Regions from separate parts of the Homo sapiens genome. Here region 1 is linked to region 2. The links come from fine-mapping of genetic effects on gene expression. Tissue or cell type: whole blood. Region 2 holds a variant in brackets; the other region holds the start of a gene. All regions are shown on one strand. Distances are from middle to middle. Region 1 holds the start of ADPGK (ADP dependent glucokinase). Region 2 overlaps ADPGK (ADP dependent glucokinase).

The links. PIP is the estimated chance that this variant, and not a neighbour inherited with it, causes the effect.
Region 1: ADPGK starts here. The variant in region 2 is fine-mapped to the expression of ADPGK in whole blood (TOPMed, PIP above 0.99).

Annotation. Positions count from the first base shown.
Region 1 is chr15:72,775,521-72,791,801 of GRCh38, reverse strand. It overlaps ADPGK (ADP dependent glucokinase), which reads left to right and starts at 8,044. Exons shown (of 7, transcript NM_001365225.1): 1 at 8,044-8,343. The coding sequence starts at 8,111. It overlaps ADPGK-AS1 (ADPGK antisense RNA 1), which reads right to left and starts at 8,967. Exons shown (of 3, transcript NR_040107.1): 1 at 6,606-8,967; 2 at 4,209-4,380. RefSeq lists enhancers at 7,519-7,728, 7,779-7,838, 8,599-8,668 and a silencer at 7,889-8,348.
Region 2 is chr15:72,744,916-72,761,196 of GRCh38, reverse strand. It overlaps ADPGK (ADP dependent glucokinase), which reads left to right. Exons shown (of 7, transcript NM_001365225.1): 4 at 670-790; 5 at 4,750-4,946; 6 at 5,543-5,641; 7 at 8,302-9,903. The coding sequence ends at 8,856. Among named protein-coding and RNA genes, the nearest start is that of ADPGK-AS1, 30 kb to the left of the region's middle. The variant G/A (reference allele first, on the strand shown) is at 4,751.

The sequences.
Region 1 (16,281 bases), 31 kb before region 2:
AAAGAACCCAATGTCCATCAACAAATGAATAGATAAACAAATAATGGTATATCCATACAATGGAATACTATTCAGCAACAAAAAGCAATAAACTAGCACAATCTATAGAAGAAAAAATAATCAACACATTACACTTCATCAAGAAGAAAAACTTTTATTCTGTGAAAGGCTCTATTAAGAGGATGAAAAGACTGGAAGAAAATATTGCATACCATGTATCTGGCAAAGGACTTTTATCTATAATATATGATATATAGTCTCAAAATTCAATAACAAAAAACAAACAATTCAATTATAAAATGGGCAAAAGGCTTGAAGAGACAGCCAGCCACGGTAGCTCATGCCTATAATCCCAGCACTTTGGGAGGCGGAGGCAGGCGGATCACTTGAGGTCAGGAGTTCAAGACCAGACTGGCCAACATGATGAAACCCCGTCTCTACTAAAAAATACAAAAATTAGCCGGGTGTGGTGGTGCGCACAGATAGTCCCAGCTACTTGGAAGGCTGAGGCTGGAGAATCGCTTGAACCCAGGAGGCAGAGGTTGCAGTGAGCCGAGATCACACCACTGCACTCCAGCCTGGGCAACAGGGCGAGCCTCTGTCTCAAAAAAGAAAAAAAAAAACCTGAAGAGACACTTCACTGAGGAAGATATATGGATGGCAAATAAATACATGAAGAGATGCTCAACACTACTAGCCATTAGGGCAATGTAAACTAAGACCACAAACAGATGTCACTATACACCCATTAGAACAAAACCTAAATTAGTGACAATATCAAGTGCTGGTGAGGATGTGAAGAAACTGGATCTCTCATATGCTGCCTGTGGGGATGTAAAAGAAAACTAAACATAAAACCCAGCAATTGTATTCCTGGGCGTTTCTCTCAGAGATATGAAATATGTGCACCCAATACTCTGTACATGATTGTTTATTGCAGCTTTATTTGCAATTGCCCAAAACTGGCAACAACCAATTGCCCAAAACTGGCAACAACTCAGGCTTTGACTCAGAAATGGAACGATGTCACTTCTGCCATATTCTATTGGCAAGGCCAGCCCAGATTCAAGAAGTGGAGAAATAGACATCACTCCTTGATGGGAGACTGAGAGACAAGGTCACAGAGAAAAAGGAGAATTATGATATTTGTAACACACCATGAGCAAGAATGAACAAAGAACAGAAAAAAAAAATTCCAGCATGTCCAGAGCAATTGTTGGGGAGTTCTCCTTCAATGAGTGAATGACTAAGCTAACTGTGATCTTTCCATACCACAGAACATTACTCAGTCAAAAAATAAAAATAAATAACAAAAATGAACTATTGACACATGCAACAGTGTTGGATGCATCTCAAGGGTATTATGCTCTCAAAAGATCACATACTGTATGATTCCATTTATAACATTTCTCAGAATGACAAAATTACAGTGATGCAAAGCAGATTAGTGGCTGCCAGGGTCTAGGAATGGTAGAGGATGGGGGTTGGGTGTGACTAAAGGGATAGCATGAGGGAGATCTTCGTGGTGATGGGACAGTTCTTGCAACTTGATTGAGTGGTGATTACCCGAATCTCCATATATAATAAGACGGCACAAAACTATACATACACCTTGCACCAATGTCCGTTTACTGGTTTTGATGCTGCACTATGATTATGTAAGATATATCCATTGAAAGAAACTGGGTGAAGGGTACACAGACCCTACCATTTTGGCAACTTCCTGTGAATATATAACTGTTTTGAAGTTAAAAGTTTTTTAAAGAGCAATTAACAGTTGATATTCACTATAACCTAGATAAATCTCAAAAATAATTATGCTGTATGAAAAAAGCCACATCAAAAAGAGTATGTACTGTATGATCCCATTTATATAAAATTCTGCAAAGTGTAAACTGAACTGTAGGGACAGAAAGCAGATTGCCTAGGTACAGGGAGTGGGAGGATGTACAGGCAGGAAGGAGTAAGAGGGAAGGGTTACAAAGGGCCATGAGGAAGTATTTGGGGGTGATGGATATGTTTACTATATTACCTTGATTGTGGTGATGGTTTTGTCAGAGGCATTCGAACCAGAGCGACTCCACTTTGAGTGAGGGCTAGGAGAATGAGGCTGAGACTTGCTGGACTGAATTCCCAGAAAGTTAGGCATTCTTAGCCTCTAGATGTTTACGGTTAAGGGAACAAATTAATAATGTTTACTAAAACAGACCCAGACTCGGGAGTGTCCAGATATCCCAATATCTGGGGAACAAAGGCATTCCTAATTTTGCTTGAAAGATAATAATATTGATTCTTGCCAAATACGATAATTAAGAAAATTAATAGTTTATCACAAACCCTTGTAGCAGAGCACATCTCTCCATATATACAAGCATTGTACCTAGGGTGGATGCGTTCCTCCTCTTAGTTTCGGGAACGTCCCGCTCTGTCTATGGAGTAGCAGTCCTTTCACCACTTTGCTTTCTTAATAAACTTGCTTTCGCTTTGCACTACAGACTAGCCCTGAATCCTTTCTTGCATGAGATCCAAGAACCCTCTCTTGGCGTCTGGATCTGGACCCCTTTCCTGTAACAGTTTCAGGGTGTATACATATATTAAACTTATTAATTTGTATACTTTAAATATTATGCACTTAATGCATATCAATTTTACTTCAATAAGCATACTAAAAATATTAAGTGCCTAGTAATAAAACTTACTAAAGACATACAAATCCTCCACAAAAAGTCTAATATGATATTGGGAGACATTTAGGTAGATCTAAATAAATGAAGGGATCTACCATAGTCCTAGAATGATAAAAATCCTAATTGGGTTTTTTTGGGAGGGAGGGCGACAAGTTGATTCAAAAATGTATATGGGAATTTTAAAAGGCCAAAGATAGCCAAGACACTCTTGAAGAGTAAGGAGAAAGAATTTATATTAACAGATATCAAGACAGTGAGACGCTGATAAACAAATAGACCAATGGAACAGATTGAAGAGCCCCAAAACAGATCCACACATACATAGACACGTGGTATTGGACAGAGGTGGGAATGCAGAGTCATTGAGAAATGACCAGTAAAAGGCACTGGGTCAATTGGGTATCTATAAGCATTCTTCTCACAACACACAAAAATCAATTCCAAGGTAGATTAAATACCTAAACATGAAATGTGAAAGCCTACAGCTCTTAGAAGGTTGTACAGGAAAATACCATCACGATCCTGAGTATGGGAAGATTTTTTAAATAAGTAACAAAAAGCACCAATGATAAGGGGAAAGTAGTAATAAAAAAAGAACAAAACGGTAACTACACTAAAAACGAAGAACTTTAAGCCTGCGCATGGTAGCTCACAACTGTATTCCTAGCACCTTGGGAGGCCAAGGCAGGAGGATCTCTCGAGGTCAGGAATTCAAAACCATCCTGGGCAACACAGAGAGACCCTATCTCTACAAAAATACATAAATAAGAATAATTTTTCATAGAACTCTACTCACTAAAGATATTATAAAAAGAATGAATAGACAAGTGACTGGGAGGGAGGCAAGATACTTGCAAATAACCAACAAATGGAAACTTGTCAAAACCACAGTAAGATACCACTACACACCCTACAAAATGACAAAGCTTTAAGAATCTGTTGGAGTGTAGCTGGAGCAACAGAAATTCTCATATGCTGCCAGTGGGAAGATAAACTGGCATACCACTTTGGAAAGATGTCAGATATTATATAGTAAAGTTGAAGACAGGCATATCATATGACCCAGAAATGTTACTTTGTTTCTACCCTGAAGAAATGGCTATACACGTGTACCACAGCATATACATAGCAACACTGTATGTAATAGTAAAAAAACTGGGAAAACTCCAAATCGTCTATTCATAGTACAATAGATAAATTTTAGTATTTTCATTCAGTGGGATATTACATAGATGCTAAGCCGTCAAAAAATAGAAAAGGCTACTGCATAGTGACCTATGCAGAAATGGCTGTCTTCCTTATAGTAAGAGAGTGACAGACCAGCAAGAAAGACTAAAAAGAAAATTAAATATAGCTCTCAGAACCAACCATAGCAACAGCAGGGAATGTTTTGAATTCCAGCATGTAGCAGACACTGTGCTAGACTGTCTTAAGATAACTCTACCTCCCACAACCATTCTGCAAAGTAGGAATTATTTTGCATATAAGGAAACTGAAGAACAGAAAAGTTAAATGACTTACCTGAGGGCACACAGATAGCAGGTGACAGAGTGAAGATTTGCAGCCAGGAATCAAATCCCACCTTCTTTCCATTGAAGTATGAACTGTTGATTGCAGCAACCATTCACCACCCCTCCCTTCATCCAGAACCCTGATTTTGTTAAGATGTACTGCCTCTTCCGTGCTGTCCACCCTAGGGATGGCAGAGCAAAAGACAGAACAAGCATGGGCCCCTGAGGACTCTCTCTGGCAATGCTGCCAGGCCATCCCAGTTAGATGTTTTTGCTTCCTTTTATTTATTTTTCCTTTATTTTAGTTTTAGGCCCAGTGGTTGTAGAACTGCTAGGGTTCTTGAATCAAAAAGAAAATGTAGTTAGAAGGCAAACTTCCCATTTCCTTCCAAACCATTGCAAGTAATACTGAAACCCAAACCAGATCACTACAGCAGATGCTACAAGGGCTACAACAGGACTGGTTTACGCAGCCTGCAGAAGAGAACCCAAGCAGGAAGGCCTGTGAGTGTAAAGGGCTCCAGCAGGCAGCCTGGTAGCAGTGTTCCGGGAAGCCTGAGATGGCTAAGAGCACTGTGAGGGTGGAGGCCTCTGCTTTATCCTGCCCCGATTCATTCGCCCTATGAAGCTCATAGGTCCCTGCCAGACAGAAGCCCACACAGTCCTGTGCCTCCTGCCTTTCTAGGCTCAGCGCTTCTTCCTGGTCCAAAGCAGTTAATTTCCAAAGTGAAAATTCCGGGCCACTATGTTGTCACATCCCCTCAAGCTACAACCCGGTTCCCAGTCTGTGTAGGAAGTTCTATTACTATCAAGAAACTCTCATGTTCTTCTTACTGCTTTGCTGCTGACGTTCCTCTCATCTGGCTCCTGTGCCTCAACACCCCTGCCTCTCCCCTGCACTGGCCAGAGGCAGTCCATCCTCTGAGCACTTCTAGTCCCCTCCTGACCTCACATTAGTGAGGAGGATGTCTGATTGCCAAGGGCTATGGCTACAGACACAAAGCTTTCTCTTTTCGGGGGCTGGGATCCTTTATTCCATCTCTTCAATCTCTTTGGAGTTTTCTGTAATCTTCAAAATTGTGCTCTGACTCTGGCCTTTGGGCATGGCCTGTGGTGGGCTGTGTCCCTGGCATCAACAAAGGCTTTGACACAGTGTGGCCTTCAAAGAGCAGCTTGGATGAAACCCCAGAGGCCTGGAGCTGCAAGGAAAGTGGGTTAGCCCAGCTTTCACAGGGACCATTTGGTCCCACTTTAGTTTCTGCTCCACGTGGGAACAAATGTGCCCCTTAAGGCCTTTCAGATTGCGGGGGTGACGCTGATGGGTATTTATGTTAAAGCCAAAACCTTCAGCTAATTTGGAAGCTGACAGGATTCTGCTAATTCTTTGTGTTCATACAGGATCTGCTCCCTGGCCTTCCAGGTCAGGATCTTGGGTGGGGCACCTGGAGCCTCCATTTGCCTCTGAATTTTCTAGAACCAAATTGCTTTTCTTCTCTCATTTCAAGGTCCTAGGAGAGAGAACCAATAGGAAAGGCCATGTCTGGAAGCAATTTGGGTGGGGGCGGGGGGTGTCTTGAGGCCTGCCCAGCCCAGCCCTTTCCTCTTTGTTCAGCCTAGGCAAAGGAGCCACAGCTGCCCACTCAGAGCTGTTTTAATTGTCCCCAGAAACCTAACTTCTAGAAAAACAATTGGCTTGCAAAGGATTCCAGACTCTCTGAACAGATAGATGATCAGAATCTTTTCTGATTTTCGTTAAGGAAATATTTCAAGAGGGACTGTGGCACCAAGACAGTGAATGCCTGCCCCTGAGCCCCGATGAGAAGGAATTAAGGGCCCTGTGACTCTGTATGTGACCAGAAGCCACATCAGGCTCCGCCAGGCCTGGCAACTGTCCCTGGTGTTCTGTTCTTCACCTCCTGCGGCTCCTGACTCTTCAGTTCTCAGTTGGAATTGAGGTCAGCTCTCTCGTTTCCTTGTCTGGCCCCCTTCACCACCCACAATGCAAACCCACACTGAGTGACTAACCAGCAAGAGGCCCACAGCAGGTCCCATAGCAACCAGAGGGGGCCAAGCTTGCTACCACAGCCCACAACATGCCAACACCCCATTTAGACTTTTACATGAGAAATAAACATCCACTTTGTTCAACTGCTGTTGTTTTGTCTCTGTGACTAAATCAACAATTCTGGCAAATCTAGAAAGAAGCAGAAGAATTAGGTGCAAAGTGCTGGAAGTTTAGCAGCCTCTCGTGGGAGCAAGAAAGCCCCAGGCAGGTTTCTGTCCACATCACTTTAATGTGGAGCACTCTCCTAGTCCTCTAGATCTGTCTGTTCTATCACCTTCCCACAGTTCAGCTTCCTGTGCTCCCCAAAACTTCACCTTGGAAACATATTTAACTGGTTCTGACCTTTAGCCTTGTGTGACTTTGTGGGTCCACAGCCAATATCAAATAACTACAGACAACAGAAACTTGGTTAAAATTCTCAATAGAGGGAAATGATCGCTGGACAGTCAGCAGACTCGCTGTTTTCAGGTCAGCTGCTGGCTCAGTCCCCTCTGGGTGCCAGGGAAACCTGACAGCTGAGGGTTGTGAGAAGAAGCAGTTTCTCTAGGAACTGACTGACATGTCTCCCTAAGGAGAGAGAAGTGACAGGCAACTCTAGGGAAGATGGCTTTCATGGCTTCATAAAGATCTGACTGGCTCTTTGGCTTCTTTTCCAAGGTAGCCCAAATCTGTTCCTGTGTGAATATCTTTGTCGAAAGGGATGGCATGGTCAGGTAGGCTGGGTAGGATGAACTGCGGGAAGGTAGATGACCAGGATGGGGAAGTTCTGATGAGGTGGGGCTGAGGAGAATGAAGACTAATGCCCAAGATCAAAGTTAGGGAAATAAAGTTTCGCTGCCAAGTCCAAAGGTCAGGGTCACAGTGGAAAACTGGACACAAAGCCAAGGTCAGGAGCCGAGAGAATTGGAAAAGTGGAAACAAACCAGGGAACAAGACTAGGCCGGGCATTGTGGCTGATGAGAATGAGCTGGTACCCAGCCTAGCTTCACTGTCTCTCAACCTAGCCTCATGCACAGAAAAGTATCAGCGAAGAGAGGGCTGGGTTTAAGTGATGTCACCAAGGGGGAACAAAAGAAAGCAGCGTTTCTCAACCCAGGTCCATAACTCTCGTGTTGTGCACAAGATTGTGTACATTTTCCAGAGTTTGTTAAAGGGAACAGCGCCCCCAAAAGGGTTAAAGTTTGATTGTGGAATAATCTGGTTATCCAGAAGAGAACGATCTCTGCGGGCTCTCCTGTCTCGACGAAGTCCTTTAGTGGCTGAGGGTCTCGGCCACCTTCCAAAGGGGCGGAATCCCCCTGCCTCGCGTACCCCAGGGGTCTCGGCAGCGCCGCTATTCTGTGAGCCTATTCCTCTCAGAAGCGCCGAGCACTAGGCCTGGAAGAGGACAAGTCTAGCAAATGAGGGGACACGGGCGGAGGGAGGGATTAAAAGATGGGGGTGTGATCCGTGCCAATGGGGACACCCACTGGTTCGAATATTAACGCGAGGTTTGTCCGCTTCTTCACAATCTGTCCGTTTCGTTTTACTGCGAAAGCAAATGTGTTCCCATCCCTCTATTTGGGGATACGATTAGAGTTCCGGGAAGGGGGTGCAGCGCCCGGACTGGCACAACCGCCGTTGTCCCACCTCCTCCGGGGCGGCAACACCGCAGTGCCAGGCCTGGGACTGAGGCGTGGGGTCCCCCCTCGCTCCGTCCTGGCGCCGCCCGTCGCCCCGCCCCTTGGGGGGCCCCGTGGCGCACCCTTGTGACGTAGCGCTTGTGTCGACATCGGCGCGCGCCGAGCCCGGAAGAGGCGCGGGCTAGGAAAGGAGTTGGTTCGCGCAGGTGCGGCGCCTGGGTCCCCATGGCGCTGTGGCGCGGCTCCGCGTACGCGGGCTTCCTGGCGCTGGCCGTGGGCTGCGTCTTCCTGCTGGAGCCAGAGCTGCCAGGCTCGGCGCTGCGCTCTCTCTGGAGCTCGCTGTGTCTGGGGCCCGCGCCTGCGCCCCCGGGACCCGTCTCCCCCGAGGGCCGGTTGGCGGCAGCCTGGGACGCGCTTATCGTGCGGCCAGTCCGGCGCTGGCGCCGCGTGGCAGTGGGGTGAGTGCCAACGGGGCCTGGGTCTCTGAGCCTCCGAGGTCGGCCTTGGAGGTCGGGCGGAGCCGCGCAGAAACAGGGCTTCTCAGAGGTCCCCGGGAGGCGCTGCTGTCCGCGCTGGCCCCTTGGCGAGAAGTGTCGGACGTCTGAGTGGAACCCGGTTCGTCACCGCTGCTCTTTCCACTCGGCTGGCCTCTGCGCCTTTCTCTCATCCCGGTAGGACCAGCCCTAACAGCTTCTTGCTAATCCCGCTTTGTCTGACACCTTTCTCCGAGCCTTCTTCCTCGTTCCAACTTTTAGCCCCTTCTCTTCTGGCGACTGTTGTTTTGCAATCAAAGATACTTGACCTTACCCACTATGACAACACTCTTCCTCTTTCTTCTGAACTTCTTGAAGACGCGTGATGTCTGCCTTTACCCACTTTCGAAACGCCGTGTAGTCTAGAAACCACACGACTGTACTGCAACTCCTCTCAGATTTGCCTTTTTGAATCTTCATTATCTACTCTGCAGCCTTCCACGCATTGAACACGCCCTTCTCCGTGAAATTCTTTTCTTCCCCTGACTTCAGTGACACTGCATATTTAAGGTTCTTCCAAATGACACTACCTCCTTTCTTTGTACTTTTCCTTGGGAATGTAATTATTTTCTTTATAGTATTGATACTGTAAACACTAACTTTAGTCCCTGTCTCAGTTCGATTTGACTTTCTTGCCGTAATCTCAGAGTTATGTATAACCACCACATAAAAGCAGGCCCTCTACCATGTAGCTCACTACTTTCTGTGGAGTGTTGGGGCCGGGAGGGGTAAAGTAGAGCAAACTTGGCCTGAAGATTAAATGACATCATTCATGTAATCTCTCTAGCATAGTGCCTGCTTTAAAAAGCATTCGATATTAGCTATAATTTTGGGGTTTTTTTTTTTTTTTTTTTTTGGACACAGGGTCTCTCTCTCTGTCGCCTAGGCTGGAGTGCAGTGGTGCAATCACTGCTCACTGCAGCCTCGAACTCCCGAGCTCAAGAGATCCTTCTGCCTCAGCCTCTGGAGTAGCTGGGACGACAGGCAAGCACCACCACGCCCAGCCAATTTTTTATTTATTTTATTTTTTTTAGTAGAGTCGAGGTCTTGCTATATTGCCCAGGCTGGTCTCGAACTCCTGAGCTCAAGCCAGCCTCCCATCTTGGCCTCCCAAAGTGCTGGGATTAAATTGTCCTTCCTTGCTTTATGCGCGTTCATTCAGCAGATATTCACCAACTACATGGTTAGTGTCAGGTCTGTGCTAGGTTCTTAAGATACAGAGATGGGTGAAGCAAGGCCCCTGTCTCACTTGTTGGAAACATATTATTGTATCAGTCATTTGGGCTGCTAGAACAGAATACCACAAATTAGGTGGATTAAACAACAAATCTGTTTTCTCGTGGATCTGGAGGCTGATAGTCCAAGATCAAGGTGTTGGCAGGATTGGCTTCCGATGTGGCCTCTCTTCCTAGCTTGCAGCCAGCTGGCTTTTCAGTTAGTCTGCGCATGTACACTCCTGGTGCCTCTTATTCTTCTTATGTGGACACTAGGTCCTTTTGGAATAGGGCTCACCCGTATGACCTTATTTAACCTTAACTACTTCCTTAAAGGCCCTACGTCCAAATATAGTCACATTGGGAATTAGGGTTTCAGCATATGAATTGGTGGGGGGTGGACAATTCAATCCATAACAATTATGGTTAGAAGAGGAACAACCCACGAGGACCAGGCAGAAGCCTTAATGCCTTTTACGACCTTACCTTAGAAGCACATAGGAACTCTTCTACCAGAGTCACAGGTCCACCTGGTTTTAAGGGAGGGGACATAGAACAAACCTTGATGGGAGGAGCATCAGTGTCACATTGTGAAAAGAACATTTGGAATGGGGCATCTTATTGCCACCATCTTGGAAAATATATTTTACTACAGTGACTTTCATAGGACAGACACTAAATAAATGAGATTTCTTCAAGCCAAAGTGGGAACAGGTCCACCTAGGCAAGAGAACCAAATGTGAAAAAGTACATGGTTTGTTTGGGAACAGGTCGGCCTTGTTTTGGAGCGAGAATCCTATGGTAGAGGGTTGTAAAGAGATGATGCTGAGAACGAAGGGTTGGACCAGATTGTGAAGGGCCTTTTATGGGGAAGCCATAAAGGTTTGTAAGTAGTTAACTGATGACAAGTTCTTTGTTGAGAATTGGTGGGAATGTGAAGGGTGGATTTTGAGCAGTGGTTCTAAACTGTTTCACTGCTTCTCATCATTTATTACCCAAAGAGGATTTTTAGCCCAAAGATAGGGGGATATAGGAGGGATGAGGGGGAGCAGGTGTAGTACTTGTATCAGAATCTCATTTTGAGGTTGTAGTTTGACTTCTCTAGAGACACACTCGTATTCACACTCTCTGTCACACAGACACACTCAAAATGCCATTTAATGTGATTCATAAGGAGGAATATCTTGACATCCTGACACTGGTTTAAGAGGCCATTGTAGGGTTTGTGTAAAGGGAGAAAGGAGCCCGAACCAAACTCGGCAATGATGTAGAAGAGGTGAGATTTGAGAGATAACCTGAATAATAGTTTGGATGTGGTGGAGTAAAGAAAGGCAGTCAAAAACGACAGGTTTTTAATATTGGATATCTTGTTTAGTTTTTGTTTTCTGTTTGAGACAGCATCTCACTCTGTCACCCAGGCTGGCGTGTGCAGTGGCATGTTCAAGCTCACTGTGGCCTTGACCTGTCATGCTCAGTGTCCCGAGTAGCTGGAACTACAGGCATGTACCACCACACCCGGCTAATTTTTATATTCTTGGTAGGGACAGGATTTGCCAAGTTGCTCAGGCTGGTCTTCAACTACTGGGATCAGGCCTTGGCCTCCCATCTTGGCCTCTGAAAGTGCTGGAATTACAGCTGTGATTCCACACCCAGCCCAGTATTAAATATCTTATAACAACTAATATGGTTAGGCTTTGTGTCCCCACTCAAATCTCATCTTGAATTGTAATCCCCATAAGCTAATCAAGGGAGAGACCAGGTGGAGGTAATTGAATCATGGGGGCGGTTCCCCCATTCTGTTCTCCTGATAGTGAGTTCGTTCTCATGAGATCCTTTGGTTTTATAAGGGGCTCTTCCCTGCTATTCACTCGGCACGGCTCCTTCCTGACACCTTAAGAAGAAGGTGCCTTGCTTCCCCTTCACCTTCCACCATGAATGTAAGTTTCCTGAGGCCTTCCCAGCCATGCTGAACTGTAAGTCAATTAAACCTCTTTCCTTTATAAATTACCCAGTCCCGGGCAATTCATTATAGCATTATGAAAATTGACTAATGCAACAACTTTATGAGGGAGGCAGATAACAGATATTGTCACCGAGTCTTCTCACATTGATTTATTTGCCCAAGATCTTGTAGCTATCAAGTGCCAGAGGAGCAATTGAAGCCTGGTCTTTCCCATTTCTGGTTCCTTGTTGATGCCATGTTGTTGCCATTAAGAGAGATTTAAGAAAAACAAGTTTCAGAAGATAAATTGGATTTCAGAGGAGGAGAAATGTACATACATTGTTATGGGATTTCAGATGAAGCTTCTCTGTCAGCTACTGAAAATGAGAAGCTGGTTTTTAGGAATATATTGAGAAACAGGATTGCAAATTTTGGAGACACTGGCACTTAGGTTGAAGCCAGAGACTGGATAGGATCACCCAGGAAGAGAAGAGGAGAAGGTAAAAATGGTAAAGGTGGAATTCTGGGAGGCACTAGCCCTTAAATGCTAGTGCATTAAGGGGCTGGTGAAAAGGGGTCAAAGAAGTAAAGGATAGGAGGAGTTTTAAGGCGTTTCTAGGAAACTTCCCCTGCTTCTAAATCAGACTCTGGTACCTATTCATTGGTTTAAAAATGATGAAACCCGGCAGGCATGGTGGCTCACGCCTGTAATCCCAGCACTTTGGGAGGCTGAGGTGGGTGGATCACCTGAGGTCAGGAGTTCGAGACCAGCTTGACCAACATGGAGAAACCCCATCTCTACTAAAAATAAAAAAATTAGGCGTGGTGATGCATTTCTGTAATCCCAGCTTCTCAGGAGGCTGAGGCAGGAGAATCGCTTCAACCCAGGAGGCAGAGGTTGCGGTGAGCCGAGATCGCGCCGTTGCATTCCAGCCTGGGCAACAAGAGTGAGACTCTATCTCAAAAAAAAAAAAAAAAAAAAACCCTCATGCTAATATTTATTGCCCCTGGAACTGGCTTCACCCTGAACCTTGAAACATATCTTGGTCTTCTCCCCTGTATGAATTCTCCATTCTAGCTAGATAATTCTTTATTGTATCCAAACACAAGGTTAATCCCTTCATGTACAACTTTGCTTGTGTATACTTCCTACGTGGGTTTCAGTATCATCAGATAAATCTGGGTTTGAATTTCAGCTCTGCCTGTCTGTGGGCTTTGGAATGTTAGTTAATCCATGGCCTCACTCTTCTCAGCTGAAAGCAGTGATGACTAATTAGCGATCTTACCGCATTTTGCAAATAGGTTTAATCTATCTGAAAATGCCTGCCTAGCGTGGGGTGCTTCTTAAAGATCAGCCGCCTTTCTTCTATCTAGATGCAGGAGCTAGGGTTCAGCACAGGGACCACTGCCCTAGCCATTTTTCCCCCGCCTCTTTACAGTTCTATGTCTTAACAATTACGATTAGCTCTTATAACAGCTGATGCACATAATGTAAAGCTAGAGAAAACCTTAGAAAACATTTTACAGGTGATGAAACAGAAGGGAGGAGATAGGAAACATCGTCTTTGCCTTAGAGGCACTTATGGTCTAGAAGGGAGAACTGTGCCCTCTTTGCCAGCCCCCCAACCCATTTTGACATTCAGCATCTGTTGTCTTGACCTATTTTCTAGTTGTTTCATCTGTGTTTTCTCCAAAATCACAGTCATCTAATATACATTTTTTACTGAAGTGTGAGCTTCTGCTTGCATGTCAGATGAGCATAATTTTGTCTTCTGATTCTTTAACTGTGTCTCCCTTTATTTCCCCTTGACAATACAGCCCCTTAGGTAATATGCTTTTTACATTTTGGGATGCTATTGAGTTGAGAAAGTGCAGAGAAAGATTCTTATTCTGGTTAAAGTATTATAAAACAGAACAAGAAAGTACATGTAAAGTACTTGTTTGGCATCCGGCATGTAGTAGATGTTCAGTGTTTTTTTGAGACAGGGTCTTGCTCTCTCACCCAGGCTGAAGAGCAGTGGTGCCATCTTGGTTCACTGCAACCTCTGCCTCCCAGGCTCAAGTGATCCTCCTGCCTCAGCTTCCTGAGTAGCTGGGGCTACAGGTGTGCACCACCACACCCAGGTAATTTTTGTATTTTTTGTAGAGACGGGGTCTTGCTATATTGCTCAGGCTGGTCTGGAACTCCTAGGCTCAAGTGATCCACCCGCCTTGGCCTCCCAAAGTGCTGGGGTTACAAGTGTGAGCCACCGTGCTCAGCCTGGTTTTTTTTAATTATAAAAAGTTATCAAGTAAACTGTGAACCAGTCTGAAAAACTGGTTATTTTCCCCCGGTATTCCTGGTATGATTAGGTGAGGGATGGAAAATGTTCCATGATAGTGATATTTTGTAACTCAAAATTAGTTCTGTTGGGTTTTGCCTTGTGTTACAAAATATACTGAACAGCTTTCCCCATTCTCATTTTAAGGAGTCAGACTGTTTAAAATCTCAGCAGTACTAGATATGGAGAGTGGGGTGTTTATAGTTTTGTTTTGTTTTGTTTTGTTTTTGAGATGGAGTCTTGCTCTGTTGCCCAGGCTGGAGTACCATGGCACGATCTCAGCTCACTGCAACCTCCACCTCCCGGGTTCAAGCGATTCTCCTGCCTCAGCCTCCCAAGTAGCTGGGATTACAGGTGTCCACCACCACACCCAGCTAATTTTTGTGTTTTCATTAGAGATGGAGTTTCACCATCTTGGCCAGGCTGGTCTCAAACTCCTGACCTCATGATCCACCTGCCTCGGTCTCCCAAAGTGCTGGGATTACAGGCTTGAGGGTGTTTATAGTTTTTGAAGTAGTTATTTTCAAAGACAGGTTTCCCTCCATTTCTGAACCTTTACTCTTCAGACTCGGGACCCAAATCCATTTGGATACAATTTTTTTAGACTGGGCTGTCTGGAGGAAATGGTATCCCTCCTTACTCAAGCCCTCACTGTCTGAAACTTAGGAACCTACTGGCGTCTGAGAGCTACAGATACTTGTATTCCTGTTGATTCTACCAATCTAATGTTGCATTCATTAGAAATAAAGGGCACCATGTCTGAGGTAAAATTGAGACCAGTTTGCAAGGTGTGTTTGGTTTCTTAACATTGAAGGTTGTGAAAGGAAAGATTTTAAACATATCTTTAAGCAACTGCCACGTGCATGTCCAGAATGGCCCCTTCTGTGTGTGTCATGGAGAAGTTCTGGCTTATATTTTCAGTGTTTCTTTACTAGAAATCATCCCTCTTTTAAAGAGAAGGGCCAAATACAGTAGCTAGATGTTTTATGCACTGAAAGGCATAGTAAATCTTAGGTTATGCTTCTCCAGTTGACCAGAGTCATTATGTGTGTCTTGAACAAGAAACTGAGTATTTAAATGCTATTTGATAGGCAAAACTCCTTTCAAAACATGAATCCCTAGGGGAAGAATTAATAAAAAGGACCCTTATAATGAGGATGCAGTCTCTTTGTGTCTTGAGGGAGGATGTCTCTTCCTTGCCCTTGTAAATCTTCCTTAAGTGATGTAAATAATATCTAGTCTGCATACAAACCTTTTTAAAGTTATGTCATTTTAAAAATTCTAAAAGGAATACAAGCATGTTAAAAGTAGAAATATACCTGGTAAAATTCCTCTTCATCCCAGTCTCATTCCTCTTCATTTTTGAAAGAGACTAAAAGGGAAATACAACTATGTATTTTACACCAAAATCTCATCCATTGGGACATTTTTATTAATGAGTTTACCTTGTGGTTTCAGAGCTGCTCAGAATTAACTCTGAAGCCCAGTCACCCGTATCACTAGGGGTGGTCTCAGTTTGCCGGCTGGGAGCTGCCTGTGTGGTAATCCAACCTCACTGGCCAGAATGACATCCCAATAGGCAGAGGCAGGAATAAAGATGACCATGATAGGGGTAGGGGCGGGAAGACCTCATCTAGCTACCTTAATTATTTGAACGTTCTCTTTAAAAGAGGGATGACTTAGCAAAGAAACCCTGAAAATGTAAGACAGACTTTCTCCATACACACATAGGAGAGGTCATGCCAGACAACCTTAGTACAAGTTGAGCATCCAGAATGCTCTGAAATCCAAAACTCTGGGGCACTGACATGATGCCACTGATGTATATTAAGTACTTATATGTGAAAATTCCACCCACACGTAAGGAATAGAAACTTTATTTCATGCACAAAAGTATTTAAAACATTGTATAAAGTTACCTTCAGGCTGTATGTATAAAGTATATATGAAATGTGTTTGGACTTGGGTTGCATTCCCAAGATATCTCATGTATATGTAAATATTCCAAAATCGGAAACACTCTGATCTCAAGCACTTCAGATAAGGGATTCAACCTGTACTTTATAATTTCCATCGAGACAACCAGGAGTGGCAGGTCTTTAACGTTCATGGGTCAGTCCTGTGAACACTGGCCAAAGGGTGAGTTCTTAAAATGCTGCAGGTGTGCCTAAGTCTGTAAAACACCACTAAATTCTAAGAGGCAGGGTTTCAGCTGGGAGTACTCAGGCATTTAGGAATTTATTGTATCTTACCATCCTCATTTGTTTTTAGAGGGAAGATGCCTGATACCTAGCCTTTGACTGAAACACATATTTTGCTTACTCTGCGCCAATTGCTGTTCCTAAGTATACATTCACTTATTTAATCTTAACCATAGCTCTATGAG
Region 2 (16,281 bases):
TAGTAGCACAATACCATAGACTTGGGGGCTCAAGCAACAGAAGTTTATTTTCTCACAGTGGAGACTGGAAAGCCCCAGAACAAGGTTCCAGCAAGGTGTGGCTTCTGGTGAGAAGTCTCTTCCTGGCTTGCAGGTGGCCACCTTCTCAATGTGTTCCCACATGTCCTGTCCTTGGTGCATGCGGTGGGGGGAGAGAGATTGATCTCTCTCTCTTTTCTTATAAGGCCACCAGTTCTATCTGATTAGGACCTCACCTCACCCTTATGACCTCATTTCATATTAATTACCTTCCAAAAGCCCTATCTCCAAATAAGCCACATGGGGGTTTGGGCTTCACCATCTAAATTTGGGGAGGTGACACAAACGTGCAGTCCGCAGCAGAGGGAATGAGATGTAGCAGCTGCATAGGTGCCTGACGGCTGTGACACAGTTCTTTTGTCAGCCTCTCAGTTCTGGGTACATTATGGCCATACCCTCCAGAGGCCTTAGCCCTGGTGACATGCCTTCTGCCGCACACCTCCAGACCAACAGCTTTCAAAATTAGATTTGGATTCCAATATTTTGTTGAAATGATTAGAATCAGCCTGAATGTACTGTCCTGGGGTGCTGTTGAGGTTCTGTGGGGAAAGGAACGGGGCTCCTGATGGACTTCGTGTTGCTTGCCTCCAGGTTCTTCTTTGCGGTCCAGTTGGTCCAAAGCTACATGAGCTTCTTGATGACAATGTCTTTGTTCCACCAGAGTCATTGCAGGAAGTGGATGAGTTCCACCTCATTTTAGAGTATCAAGCAGGTAAGGAAATGAGTAAGTAATGGTGGCAAGACCAGTCAAGGGGCTGTGTATTGTCAGATTGGGGTGTGACTGTGCCGGAAATTTATCTTTGTAAATTAGCAGGATCCTGTTTTTGCCATACTGAAAGTTTCCTGACCTATTGGTTCTACTGAGCTGATACTGGCCGTTGTCTCAAGGGAGACTGAGTATTATAACATGGAAGAAAATTCCCAGGTCTACAAGCAGAATTGCTCCGAACCCAAGATAAATCAGGTCATAGGAAAGCAAGCATCTCAAATAAAAGTGAAAACGTGTTAAACACACATATATAAAGTTTTCCTTTATGACTAAGACAAGAGAAAGGCAGGTAGCATCCATTCAACTCTGTGCTGGATTCTGCCCTAGGCCTTTCTGACTGACTCTTCCAAGCTGCTTGGGGTTGATTCCAAGCTTCTGGCAAGTTTCTCTGGAGCATTTTATTTTTCCTTGGGTGTGTGAATGGAAGTGTTTTGTATTTAACATCACTATATTGTTTCCCATCAGATGTTCTAATGTTAATAAATCCACATCCACTGCATCCCATCCCCTCTTCCCAGCAGATTTTATATGTTACGTAGATTAGGCATCTGGTTTCTGAGAGAATATTAAATACTTGGACATACTTTGATCCTGTGTATTTCCTGCTGTAATTTTCCCTCTGCTCAGAACTCAGACTCTTGAGTTTCTGATTCAACACATTGTTAATACACATTAAAGACTCAAGCATCTAAACAGACTAATTGGTACCTTAAAGCAGCACTTAATACTCTTCAGTGAACTACTTCCAAGTCAATTAAGAGAATCTTCTCTACTAGAGTAATTAACTTTAACATAAGATATGAACTATGTTATTTCTTGAGAATTATGCCTTTCTCCAGGTAGAAAAAAGAGTTGTAACATGTTCTGGTTCTCTTTCGGGTGCTTACTAGAATCAGTTGGGAATTAAAGAAGGATAGGGTCTGAAAATTAGGGACACAGCGTTGACGTAGGCAATTCATACTTAATGCTACACAAGTTTTTGAGTTTCTCAGCTTTAGTTTTCCCAAATGGGAAGTAAGAGTAATAGTTTTTACTGCCTGATCATTGTGGTAAGGATTAAGAGATTGGTTGGTGTGCGGAAACATTGTGAGCAGCTTGGATGAAAAGATGACCTGGCCGCACGTGGTGGCTCATGCCTGTAATCCCAGAACTTTGTGAGGCTGAAGCGGGTGGATCACAAGGTCAGGAGTTCAAGACCAGCCTGGCCAAGATGGTGAAACCCCGTCTCTACTAAAAATACAAAAATTAGCCAGGTGTGGAGGCGGGCGCCTATAATCCCAGCTACTCAGTAGGCTGAGGCAGAGAATTGCTTGAGCCTGGGAGGCGGAGGTTGCAGTGAACTGAGATTGCACCACTGCACTCCAGTCTGGGCAACAGAGCGAGACTCCGTCTCAAAAAATAATAATAATAAATAAATAAAAGAATGACCTGACTGTGGACTGGAAGGGTCTGGAATTGCTAAAGATGAGCCCCTGAGGTATTGCTGCCATGAGTTCCAGATTCGTGTCAGTTTTTTTGGCACCCACAGCAGGAACTGGGGACCTTTGTGATTCCTGGTTTGTCATTTTTCCTGGTGACTACAGAGTGGAGAGTCTTACGTCTTCAGCAAGACTTTGATGTTGTATTGGACAGCTGTGCCTCGTATGTAGTTAAGGAGACAGCACAGTTCACCGCACAAAGAGAGTGTCTCCATCCTTGGGTTTATAAGCTTCACACTTCAGTTTTTCTTTCCTATGCCTCTTCTGCATACAAAGCAGTGGACTTCCATTAAACTTTGTGAGGTGACATTTTCCTAGGTCCAAGGAGGGAGCCTAGTCTAGTGGCAGTAGCCCTGGGCTCAGCTCTCTCAACAGAAATCCATTCCCAGCTTGTCTCTGACCTCAATAGGGAAATTCCAAGGGATTTGTCCATTTTTTTTTCCACATTCTCTCTTACCAGATCTCCCCAGAGAAGCCCATTGTCAGGCTTGGGCTGGGAATCCAGTGAGTCACTACGCAGAGGTTTTGCTGACTTACTGGCTGAGGGCAGGATGATACATTGAGAAGAGATTGCTTACAGGAATGAATACAACACTTTGTGAGGAAAGAGGGGCGCTAACTACCATTACAGGCAGAATTAGATCCATTTGCATCTGCCCCCTGCATGGCCTCTCCAACGGGGCCATGAATATGCTGGAGGTGTTTGTGTCTAGCCTGGAGGAGTTTCAGCCAGACCTGGTGGTCCTTTCTGGATTGCACATGATGGAGGGACAAAGCAAGGAGCTCCAGAGGAAGAGACTCTTGGAGGTAATGGCACTGTTACAGAATTTCACAGATCTCAGCTGGTGGTTTTCTTCAGGTTCCAGCCTCTCTTGGCATCTGCTGCCTTGTTTCCTGTGGAAACAGCAAGCAGCTCTGCACGGTTCTTCTCATCCTTGCCTTGCAGAAGAGCCTGTTTATTTTTGCCTCTGTCACTTCCTGAAGAAATCAGTGTATTTTCAATACAGTGTGGCTCCTTTCTCCTAGGTTCAGTTAGGTCGTGTTTCCTAGCAGTGTCACTATTCAAGGGTTGAGTCCACGTCTTGCTCTCTGGAGAATGTCAATGTAATGTATTTTTCCCATCGTACAGAGTCTTTGTTGATTTGCAAAATGTTGGATTTGGGGTTCATACCCATATTTTTTGTTGTCATGGGCATTTAGGTCATCAGTCTGTTCTCTTATTTGCTTGTTCTTTTGTTAATTCATTCCCATGGCTATATGCCAGACACAGCATGATGCAGAAGGAATACGACAGAGGATGACACAGGCCCTGCCCTCAGCTCACAGTTTACTGCCAGAGATAGACACTTGGAAAAAGTAATTGCAGGCCGGGCATGGTGGCTCACGCCTGTAATCCCAGCACTTTGGGAGGCTAAGGCAGGCAGATCACCTGAGGTCAGGAGTTTAAGACCAGCCTGGCCAACATGGTGAAACTCCGTCTCTACTGAAAATACAAAAATTAGCCAGGCGTGGTGGCGGGTACCTGTAATCCCAGCTACTCGGGAGGCTGAGGCAGGAGAATCGCTTGAACCTGGGAGGCAGAGGTTGCAGTGAGCTGAGGTCGCGCCATTGCGCTCCAACCTGGGCAACAGAGTGAAACTCCATCTCAGAAGAAAAAAAAAAAAAAAAAAGGAAAAAAGAAAAAGGAATTGCAAAATCATGTGCCTCAGTCCTGTATTAGGGTACAGTGGTGGCCCCAGAAAGGAGGTAATCAAGTCTGCTTAGGGGTGGTAGGATTAGGAAAGGCTTCATGTTTAGGGAGGAACTAGCACTTGAACTTGGGTCTTTAAACAGTCATTCCTCTAAAGCAACTCACATAGAAGCAACTGGAGCAGCTAGATAGTCTGATCCTTTGGATCAGGTGCCCAGAAACCACTGATGGGCAGCAGGGAAGAGGAGATGCAGTGAGCTTGGCTGTTGGGAAGAAATTCAGCCTGCTTAAGTTCCAACTGAATGAAAGATGCTCAGGGCAATGCTGTGAGGAAGAATGTGCTTTAAACAATGACAGCCTATACTGTCTGCAGGGCGTGCGTGCTGCACACTGTATGCTGGTATTTGGAAGTCATGCTGCCATTCTGTACTGTCTCTCCTGTGTTTGAGAGCTCAAGTAGGGCTCTCCTGGGACTCAGGGGGAGCTAATTACCTTGAAAAAGGCATATAGCACCCATACTATGTTTCTGTTTCTTGGCTGGGTTTGGGTTTAGGTTTTTGGTTTGTTTCTTGCAGTGCCATGCTGACCTTAGGCCATTGTTGCTGGGGTCTCCTCAGCCAGAAACCAGCCTGCTTGGAGCCAAGGCTCCTGTGAGGTGCCTGAAAGTGCCCCCACAGCTAGGAGACCTAAAGCCTCTTCCTTTTCTTCCCATTGTGTTGACTGGGTTTTTCCAGG[G/A]GAGGAGTGGGGCCAGTTAAAAGCTCCCCATGCCAACCGATTCATCTTCTCTCACGACCTCTCCAACGGGGCCATGAATATGCTGGAGGTGTTTGTGTCTAGCCTGGAGGAGTTTCAGCCAGACCTGGTGGTCCTCTCTGGATTGCACATGATGGAGGGACAAAGCAAGGAGCTCCAGAGGAAGAGACTCTTGGAGGTAATGGCACTGTTACAGAATTTCACAGATCTCAGCTGGTGGTTTTCTTCAGGTTCCAGCCTCTCTTGGCATCTGCTGCCTTGTCTTAGGTCCTGGCCTCCCAGGGACATATCTTGGCAGCTGGCTGTGGAGCTTGCCTCCTGCTGCAGTGAGGCACCTCACTGTATCCCTTCAGATGTGGGCAGCAGCTTGAGTAGGACAGGGCAGAACATCTTCTTGCCTGAGCCTCTGCATCCTGTGCTAAACCGACCATGGCTGCAAGCTGCAGGGTTTGTAGTTTGTGTCCTTTGTGTTATTTGTATCATCTCACTTCACATCAGCTATGCTGCAACTCCTACAGATTCGTACAGCAGTCGAAGTGAACTGCCATCTCTGATTCTGTATCCCTGATGGCTCTGCACAGCCTAGTCTTCCCTGGTGGGAAGAGTGTCCCTTGTCCACAGAGGTGGTGGGGACCCACATTGCTTGTAGCTCCCGTGAGCATGCAAAGAAGGCCATTACCAGGAGGAACCGCCTCTCAGGATCTGATCTTTTCTTCCCTCTTTCTTGACTTCCTTCTATTTCTAATGGCAGTGCTTATCTTCTTCTCTTTGCAGGTTGTAACCTCCATTTCTGACATCCCCACTGGTATTCCAGTTCACCTAGAGCTGGCCAGTATGACTAACAGGGAGCTCATGAGCAGCATTGTCCATCAGGTAACCTCATGGGACCATCGTTTGGCCCTGATCCTCATAGAGCCTTGCAGAGAAGCTTTTTTGTGCAGTGGGACCATCTGTTTGGGCTCAGGGACTGGCTCACTGACATGTAGGTTTGTGTCACTCAGACCCAAGTCCATGGAGATCCAAATAAGGATCCAGGACTGTTCTGAAACAGCAGTATCTCCTACTAGGTTAAAGTTATGGCAGTGTAACTGACAGATTGTTGATCATATTTCTCCTCTGGAATGGAAAAGTTGAAAGTGAATGGAAAAAACTGAAAGCCCAGCTCAGCTGCTTTCAGTTGAACTTCAAGAAGCTCAAAGCAAAGAAACTTTGAGGGAACCTCCCTCCTTCCTCAGGCATCTGGGTGTTCAGTGCCTGCCTCTGGGCAGCAGCATTGACTAGTATAAATCTGAGCAGGTGAAGCTTCAGAACACAAGCTCTGGAGACCTGGGTTCGCATGCCAGCCTTGCACTCACGGGCTTCATGAACTCAGGCAAGTTACCTCACCTGGCAATCTAGTGTTACCTAATTTTAATTGGTAATATATTCATTTGGTTAAAAAATACCCAAAAACTATGAAAAGATATACAATGAAGTCTCCCTTCTACTTCCTCCCCTTCCCTACTTGCACCCTTCATCAGTTTATTTCCAGAGTTCTTTTGTACAAGTATAAGAAAATACAGAAATATATCCTGATTTTGTTTTCCATCCCTTTTTACCCAAAAAGATAGCATAGCCTACTGAATACTCTGTTCTTCACTTTGCTCTTTTTTTCACTAAATATATCTTGGAGATCTTCCTGCATCACTAACATGGAGAGTATCCTCTGTCTTTTCATAGCCATATGGTTAAAATGAATGTGTAGATGTACCTCCGTTTACTTAACCTGAACCTTCTGGATGGACATATTGGTTATTTACTGCCCTTTGCTGTTACACACAGTGCTGCAGTGAACAACTTGATACATGATTTTGTTTTGCCTGTGAACAAGTCCATATTTAGGAGAAAGTCTCAGAAGTAGAACAGCTGGACTGGAGCATAAAAAAGCACTTGTAATTTTGAGATTGCCAGATTGCCCTCCATAAGAATTATACCAGTTTACTTCCCACTGGCAATAATTACAAATACTTGTTCCCTCATATCCTTGCTACCAGAATGTTAAAATTTGCATTTATATCAGTCTGACAGATGAAAAAATGGTATTTCAGTATACAGTCATCCCTCGTCATCAGCGGTGTGTGGGGCGGCGGGGGCGGTTCCAGAACCCTTCCCAGATACTAGAATCTGCAGATGGTTAAGTCCTGCAGTTGGCCCTGTGGAATCTGTGGATTAGACAAGTTGGCCCTCCCTATCTGCAGGTTCCACATCCTTGAATACTCTGTTTTCCATCTGAAGTTGGTTGAAGCCATGGATATGGAGGGCTGACTGTCGTTGGTTTTGTTTTTTTTTTTTTTGATAGACTTCATTTTTTTTTTATGGTAATATTAGGTGCATAGCAAAATAGAGCAGAATCCAAGAGAGTTCCCATATACTTCCAGTCCCCTCACACACAAGCCTCCCCAACTACCAGCAGCCTGCACCAGAGTGGTACATTTGTTAAGCTAGTGAGCCTACACAGGCACGTCATCAGCACCCAAAGTCCATAGTTTACACTTGGGTTCACTCTTGGTGTTTTTCAGTATAGCTTTTGTTTGGGTTTTTCTTCTCACCTTTAAAAAAATGAGCCATTTCTATTTCATTTTCTCTGTAACTGTCTACTTAACCCTTCTGAGGCTTAGTCTGTACAATGGAGGCAGTCCCTCCTTCCCTCAGAAGATTACAGTAAGAATTGGATGAAATAAAGCCTTTAGCTCAGTGCCTGACACAGAAGAACATGCAGTGAAGGAAAGCTGCTATTGCTCCAACAAAGATGTAGGCCATTAAATTTTTAAAACCATTTTATACATGCACACATACATACAAGGACTCCTCTCTCCTGCAAAAATTGTTACCTTAAGTGTGGTTCTCTGGTTCTAAGGAGGGAAGTGCTAAGTAAGAAAGACAGGGAGGTGGATATTGTGGTTCCCCATCAGACAGAAAACACGGGCACCTGTTTGGTAATCTTTTTCTTACAGTGTTATTGCTAAATTCAGACAGTCTTCCTAACCCACACCTGCTTTTAAAAAGCTTAGCTCTAACATGAAACTGTATGCTTTTTGCTTCTTGGTGTTTTGTATAAAAAAAATCATTATAACCCTGACAGTATGTTGCTTGAGGTCTCCATTTTACTGGTCTAATACTGCTGACATTCAGGAACTGAGAGCCATGCCCCATCAGTGGTAAGAGTATCTCCTATGTGTGCAGTGGCAAAAGCTAGGGACCATGGAAAGAAACACAAAATATAGACACCTCTGCCTTTTGTCTTACAGTGGCATATCACAAAAGACTGCATCTGAAACAATGTTACTGCAGCTTTCCAGTTTCTCCCAAATGATGATGAAGGTGAAGATAGGGGTGTGATAGCTAAAACAGTGACTTCAGGGCCAGGGAGTCCTGTATCAAGGAAGAAAGCTGCCTGCCTGTGTTCCCTGTCATTTAGTCACTGGCTGTGTCATAAGACATCTTAGGAGCCAGGTTATCTCCATCAGAAAGATACCTGTTGTTGTTTTTGTTAGCAGGTCTTTCCCGCGGTGACTTCCCTTGGGCTGAATGAACAGGAGCTGTTATTTCTCACCCAGTCAGCCTCTGGACCTCACTCTTCTCTCTCTTCCTGGAACGGTGTTCCTGATGTGGGCATGGTCAGTGACATCCTCTTCTGGATCTTGAAAGAACATGGGAGGAGTAAAAGCAGAGCCTCGGATCTCACCAGGATCCATTTCCACACGCTGGTCTACCACATCCTGGCAACTGTGGATGGACACTGGGCCAACCAGCTGGCAGCCGTGGCTGCAGGAGCTCGTGTGGCTGGGACACAGGCCTGCGCCACAGAAACCATAGACACCAGCCGAGTGTCTCTGAGGGCACCCCAAGAGTTCATGACTTCCCATTCGGAGGCAGGCTCCAGGATTGTATTAAACCCAAACAAGCCAGTAGTAGAATGGCACAGAGAGGGAATATCCTTCCACTTCACACCAGTATTGGTGTGTAAAGACCCCATTCGAACTGTAGGCCTTGGAGATGCCATTTCAGCCGAAGGACTCTTCTATTCGGAAGTACACCCTCACTATTAGGAAGATTCTTAGGGGTAATTTTTCTGAGGAAGGAGAACTAGCCAACTTAAGAATTACAGGAAGAAAGTGGTTTGGAAGACAGCCAAAGAAATAAAAGCAGATTAAACTGTATCAGGTACATTCCAGCCTGTTGGCAACTCCATAAAAACATTTCAGATTTTAATCCGAATTTAGCTAATGAGACTGGATTTTTGTTTTTTATGTTGTGTGTCACAGAGCTAAAAACTCAGTTCCCAAATCCCCAGTTTATGCAGCGCCATCAGGTATTTTAAGCTAAACTTCTTCACCCCTGAGAGCATGTCAGCTGGAGAAAAGCAGTTCTTCCTTGCCCACTTGAGAAGTGCACGCCCACTCACCCAACATCCTGGTCTCTAGGAAAGCCTCATGTGAGGTTCCTCTTTCTTTCAGCTCAGTGCCCATGGGCAAGGATCATGATTTCCATTCCGTGTTACAATGACAATATTTAATGAGCATAACCTTCTCAGTCTCCTGCTCTCAAATTTAGGACAGAGCCGCTAAGGACAAAACAATCCCTCCCGTGCTTTATGATGGCAGCAGGGGCTGGGGAGCCTCTGAGGGACTCTTTCATTCTGCAGTTGTCTGGAAGCCTGGGTGGCGTCATGAGCTGAAGGATCATGCTTTCCTGTCCTGGCTCCATAGGTTATAGGCTGGCTGGTGAAAGGTTCACGTGGCCCAGGCTGAACTTCATTGCCTAGCTTTGGATGTGCTTTCTGCCATAAAGACTGATTTTTGTTCGTTCTGAGCCTTCAAGGAATTTGTTTTTTACAACTGGAATATGCTCCTGTGTGTGTTAACAGATCATGGATGTTTTATGTTTTCACTGATCATTTAAAGAGTTTGACCTCAGAGCTCCAGGATCATCAGTAAATTTGTCATGTTATATATTTATTTTTTTATAAATCAAGACTTCTGTGTGCTCTTAAATATATTAAAAACAATTTACATTTCAGGAATTCTGTCTGTAATTGATTTTTGTCTCCATCACCACTCTGGAACCAGATAAGATAAAAATCATTCTGATCTTCATTTGTGATGTGCATGTTACTTTGCTCTTGAGGTGCTTGCAGTCCCTCATGCTGAGCCTGAGCTATAGGCTTGTCCTGTGGGGTTGAAAGTGACACAAAGTACTAGTATGAAGTAGCCCAGTTAAAGCTGAATTGGAGCATAGCAGTTTGAGAGCATGGTGAGCCTTTTCAGCTTGTTGGGAGGGCAGTATGAACATGGCAGCTGGTGGTGGGCCTGCCTAGTTCAGGGGTCTTCATTTCCCCTGGGCCCACAGCAGCTTCTGGAATCTCAAAGCTACCTCAAGCTCTTCATTTATGACCTCCCTTTCCCTGCTTTGGATAAGAAAGCTTGATTACTCCTTCAAAGTAAATTTAAGCCTAGAATGCAGCTTGTAACTCAAAGCTGCATTCTAGGCTTAAATTAAGGAAATCTCTGGCTGCTACCTCTTCCTTCTGTTTCCCAGATAAGTTAAAAATAACCACCAACCTTCTAGCCTATTTTTATTAGAAAGGCTCACATGAAATTTTTGTTTTCTCAAGAATTGAAATATTTATATTCTAAACCTAAGAAGACTTTATTAGGAGTCCTGAAGTGTTCACATGATCTTTTCTAATGTCTAAGTTGACTAAGCCCCTGGTCCTGAGTGTGTATTCTTAACTCGTTCTCCATTTTTTGATTGGTGATGCCAGTAAAGACTAGTTCAGGGAGTATAGACTACACATACCCTAGAGCAGTGTTTTTCAAATAATGGATCTTGAACTAATAGCTACTAAATCCATTTGGTGGTTATCACAAAAAGTATAAAAACATCATACATTATAAGGGTAAGTATAAGTAAGCATTGTTTTATAAAATGTCATTGACTGTCTAAGTGTATATAGATTTAAACATACATACATCGCCCTGCAGAATGTCCATCTTTTTTGTGAAGCAGCTAAGCAATAGAAGTGATGGGTATTTATCACACAAGACAGATTATGCAGAGGTGAGTTGGAAGGGTAGGATAAGCTGAACAGGTGGGGGCTTCAGGTTTCTCAACCCTTTGGTGTTTTACAAAGGTATTTTACATATGATTTTATATGAAGAAATCTTTGAAAATCCATTGGCCTAAAAAGGATGCCTGGTGAAGGGTGAGTCTTCCTGAAAAGTGTTGGTACACTCCCTCTGGCTTTCATTTGAAACTGATTTTAGTTTCAGGGAAAAGAAAAGCTGCAGCATACAAAGCACTACCAAGAAGTAAGAGTACAGCCAAAAATCCGTCATCTTATGCAGGTACAGTTTGCATTGTATTCTCTCCTGGCAAGTTTGAGAAGAAATCCAAATTGTACAAAAGGTTTTGAGGTGGTGAGTATTGAATGATGTTGGACAAGTTACCCTTACTGAGCCTTACTTTGCTTATCTGTAAAATGGGGTTAATGGCGGTACCTACCTTCATAGGGCTGTTGATTACAGGAGACTGCCATGTGGAATATTTAGCACAGTATGGGGCACATACTTAAGAGCTAAATAATTGTCAGTTATAACCAAGCTGAACAGACAATTTCTTGGGTCTCTTTAGAACTATTTTAAATCACTGAAAAGCTACTTGTAATAATTTAACATTTTGTTTTCTGGTCTTTTTTTTTTTAAAGGTGAAAATGTTTATATAGTGAAACTGCACAAATTTTAAGTGTGCCATTTGGTAAATTTGTTTTTGTGTTTTTGTTTTTGAGACAGAGTCTCGCTCTGTCGCCCAGGCTGGAGTACAATGGTGTAATCCCAGCTCATTGCAACCTCCACCTCCTGGGTTCAAGTGATTCAACTGCCTCAGCCTCCGGAGTAGCTGGGATTACAGGCACCTGCCACCACGCCCAGCTAAGTTTTTTGTATTATTAATAGAGATGGGGTTTCACCAGGTTACCCAGACTGGTCTTGAACTCCTGACCTCAGGTGATCCAGCCGCCTCGGCCTCCCAAAGTGCTGGGATTACAGGCATGAGCCACCACACCTGGCCTTTTTGTTTTTGAGACAGAGTTTCGCTCTGTCACCCAGGCTGGAGTGCAGTGGCTCAGTCTCGGCTCACTGTAAATTCCACCTCCCAGGTTCAAGCGATTCTCCTGCCTCAGCCGCCCTAGTAGCTGGGATTACAGGTGCCTGCCACTAGACCTGGCTAATTTTTGTATTTTTTGTAGAGATGGGGTTTTACCATGTTGGCCAGGTAACGGTCAGGCGCGGTCTCTACTAAAAATACAAAAATTAGCTGGGTGTGGTGGTGGGTGCCTGTAATCCCAGCTACTGGGGAGGCTGAGACAAGAGAACTGCTTGAGCCCATGGGGCAGAGGTTGGAGTGAGCCAAGATCATGCACTTCTGCCTGGGCAGCACAGCCAACTCTGTCTCAAAAAAAAAAAAAAAAAAAAAAGATTCAGAATGGACAGCCCCAAGCACATTGTCTGAGTTAGTCTTGATCTGCAAGGAGCAGCAAAAATGAAAAGTCTCCATCACCCTAGATAGTTCCTTCATGCCACTTCCAAGTCATCCCCACCGCATACCTCAAGCCCCAGAACAACCAGTTATTTTCCACCAGAAATCAGTTTTGCCTGTTTTCAGAATGCAACTTAAAAATGGAGCCATTCAGTATTTAGTCCTTTGTATAGAGCTTCTTCCATTTAGCATAGTATTTTTTAGAGTAATCCATGTTGCATGTAGTTGGTTGCTTTTTATAGCTAGATAGTACTCCACTGTGAGTACAGAGCATTCCACTTTGGAATTATTATGAATAAAGCTGCTGTCAACAAGTGTTTGTGTAGACGTACTGTCATTTCTCTTGGGTAAAGGCCTATAGGAGGGAAATTGCTGGGTGAAAGGCCTTTTTTCTAAAATGGTTGGACCATTTACACTCCCTAAAACAGCATATGACAGTTGTGGTTGCTTTTCTTCCCCACAACCATCTGGAGTTGTCAATGTTTAATTTTACCCATTTTGACAGGTATACAGTGGTATTTCAGCATGGATTCAATTTGTATTTCCCTAATGACATATGAGCACTTTTTCATGTGCTTTATTGACTATTCATATATCTTTCTTTGTGAAGTGTCCAAATCTTTTGCCTTTTTCTCCCCCAGTTGAGTTGTTTGCTTTGTGTATGTTGTTTGGGTTGTTAGGTTTTTTTGAGTAATAAGAGTTGCATCCAAAATGTTTGGATACAAGTCCTTTGTCAGATATGTTTTGTACTTTCTCCAAGTCTGTGGTTTGATATCCTTTTTCTTAATGTCTTAATGTTCTCTATGCCCAAAGAAATATTGGACCATGCCCATGTCACAAATATAGTCTCACTTTGTATATAAAATGTGTAAGTTTTTATCATGTACAGCATGTTTTGAAATATGTATATATTACCTTTACATTAGCTGTAGGTATATAGCTATATTGAGCTAATTATGCATTGTCTCAGTTTTTTGTGGTGAGAACACTTGAAATCTTCTGTTGGCAATTTTCAATAACTTTTTCTTCTTTAAATTCTTTTGTATTGTATTTTTATATACTAGGAAATTTTCAATAATACATTAAGTAGAGTCACCGTGTTGTACATCTCCCCAACCCCTGCCCCTAGATTGCTTTTCCATACAGCTATCCAGTCGTTCCAGTAACATTGGTTGAAAAGACTTTTCCCATTGCATTGCTTTGGTACCTTTATCAAAAATCAAATGACTGTATAACTGTAAGGTCTATGTATGCACTCACTTCTGTTTTATTGCTCTATTTGTCTATCTTTATGCCAGTGCTACATGAGCACTATTATAGTAAGTCTTGAAGTAAGGCAGTGTAAGTCTTCCAATTTTGGTTTTTTTCCATGATTGCTTTACATGTTCTTGGTCCTTTGTGTTTCCATAACATTTTAGAGCCAGCTTGTCAAGTCAATTTCTACCCCAAAACCTGCTGGGATTATGATAGGATCTATAGATGAATTTCGGAAGAATTTTTATCTTAACAGTATTTAGTCGTACAATGCATGAACATGATATATATTTCTATAATGGCCTTCTGTTTCACACCAGTGCTTTTGCCGTTTTCAGAGTAGAGGTCTTAACGTGTAGTCTGTTAAATTCCTAAGTATTTCGTATCAATAGTATTTGACACTTTTGTGATTTTTTTTATTTTCAAAATTGTTCCTTGTATATAAAAATACAATTGATTTTTGTACATTGACTGTATCTTGTGACCCTGCCAAATCCACTTGGGTGTAGTCACTTTTATTTTAATAATTTATTTTTAGGATTCCTTAGGATCTTCCACATAATCATGTCATCTGTAAAGAGTTTTATTTCTTCCTTTCTAGTCTTTATGCCTTTTTATTTCTTGCCTTATTGCACTGGCCAGAACTCTAGTCCAGTATAAGGCTGAATAGAAGTGGTAAGAGCAAACATCTTTGCCTTGGTCCTGATCTTAGGGGCAAAGTAGTCAATATTTCACTAAATATGATATCCATTGCATTTTTTTTCTCATGGATGCCCTTCATCAGGTTGAAGATGTTCCCATCTATTCTTTATTTGCTGAGAATTTTTATGATTTTGTTTTGTTTTTACTTTCTCAGGGGCTGAGAAGGGTATTGAAGTTTTAGGTTCATAGGAAATTGAGGAAATACAGACACTTGCCATATACCAGCTGCCCCAACACATGCATAGCCTCTTCCCTCCCTATCAACATCTCCCACAAGAACATGTAAAGCAAACATCTCCCACATTTGTTACAACTGATGTATATATACGGACACATCTTTATCACCCAAAGTCCATAATTTACTTTTGGCTTCAGTCTTGTACATTCTGTGGCTTTGGACAGAGTCTCACTCTGTCACCCAGGCTGGAGCACAGTGGCACAATCTTGACTCACTGCAACTTCCACCTCCTGGGTTCAAGCCATTCTCCTGCCTCAGCCTCCTGAGTAACTGGAATTACAGGTGTGCGCCACCATGCCCGGCTAATTTTTGTATTTTTAGTAGAGACGGGGTTTTGCCAGGTTGGCCCGGCTGGTCTGAAACTCCTGACCTCAGGTGATCTGCCCACCTCAGCCTCCCAAAGTGCTGGGATTACAGGCATGAGCCACCACACCTGGCCTGGACAAATATATTAATATAACAACATGCATCCACCACTATGGTATCACACAGGGTAATTTCACTGCCCTAACAACCCTCTGTGCTCTGTTCATCCTTCCCTCCCCACTAATGCCTGGCAACCACTGATCCGTTTGCTGTCTTATAGTTTTGCCTTTTCCAGAAGGCCATATTGTTGGAATCATGTGGGATGCAGCCATTTCAAATTGGTTCCTTTCTATAGTAATACGCACTTCAGTTTCCTACATGTCTTTTCATAGCTCATTTCTTTTTAGAATTGAGTAGTAGTCTTTTATCTGGATGTACCACAGTTTATTCATTTATTCACCTATTGAAGGACATTTTGGTTGCCTCCAGGTTTTGGCAACTGTGAATAAAGCTGCTGTAAACATCCATGTGCAGGTTTTTGTGTGGACATATATTTCTAACTCCTTTGGGTAAATAGGAGTGTGATTGCTGAGTTCTAACATTAAAAGTATGTTTAGTTTTGTAAGAAGCTGCCAAACTGTCTTCCAAAGTGGTTATACTATTTTGCATTCCCAACATCGATAAATGAACAGTCCATTGCTCAATATCCTCACCAGCATCTGGTGGTGTCAGTGTTCTGGATTTGGGCATTCTAATAGGTATGTAGTGGTATCTCATTTTAATTTGCATTTCTCTGATGATATATGATGTGGAACATTTTTAAATATGTTTATTTGCCATCTGTGTATCTTTGGTGAGGTGAGGGGTTTTGGTCCATTTTCTAGTCAGGTTGGTTTTTTTGCTTTTAAGTCAGTTTCGCTGTTGCCCAGACTGATGTGCAATGGTGCAATCTCCACTCACTGCAACCTCTGCCTCCCGGGTTCCAGCAATTCTTCTGCCTCAGCCTCCCAAGTAGCTGAGATTACAGGCATCATGCCTGGCTAATTTTTGTGTTTTTAGTAGAGACGTGGTTTCACCACGTTGGCCAGGCTGGTCTCCAACTCCTGACCTCAAGAGATCCGCCCGCCTTAGCCTCCCAAAGTGCTGGGATTGCAGGCGTGAGCCATCGCGCCCGGCCTCAGGTTGTATTCTTAATGTAGAGTTTTTGAAGTTATTTGTATATTTTATGTAACAGTCCTTTATCATTTAAGAAACATGATGGGTTTTTTGTGTTTGTGTGTTTTAAGACAGGCTCTCACTCCATCATCCAGGCTGGAGTGCAGTGACATGATCACAGATCATGGCTCAGTGCAGCCTCAACCTCTCAGGCTCAAGTGAGCCTCCTGCCTCAGCCTCTCAAGTAACTAGGATCACAAGATGTGCCACTACGCCCAGCTAA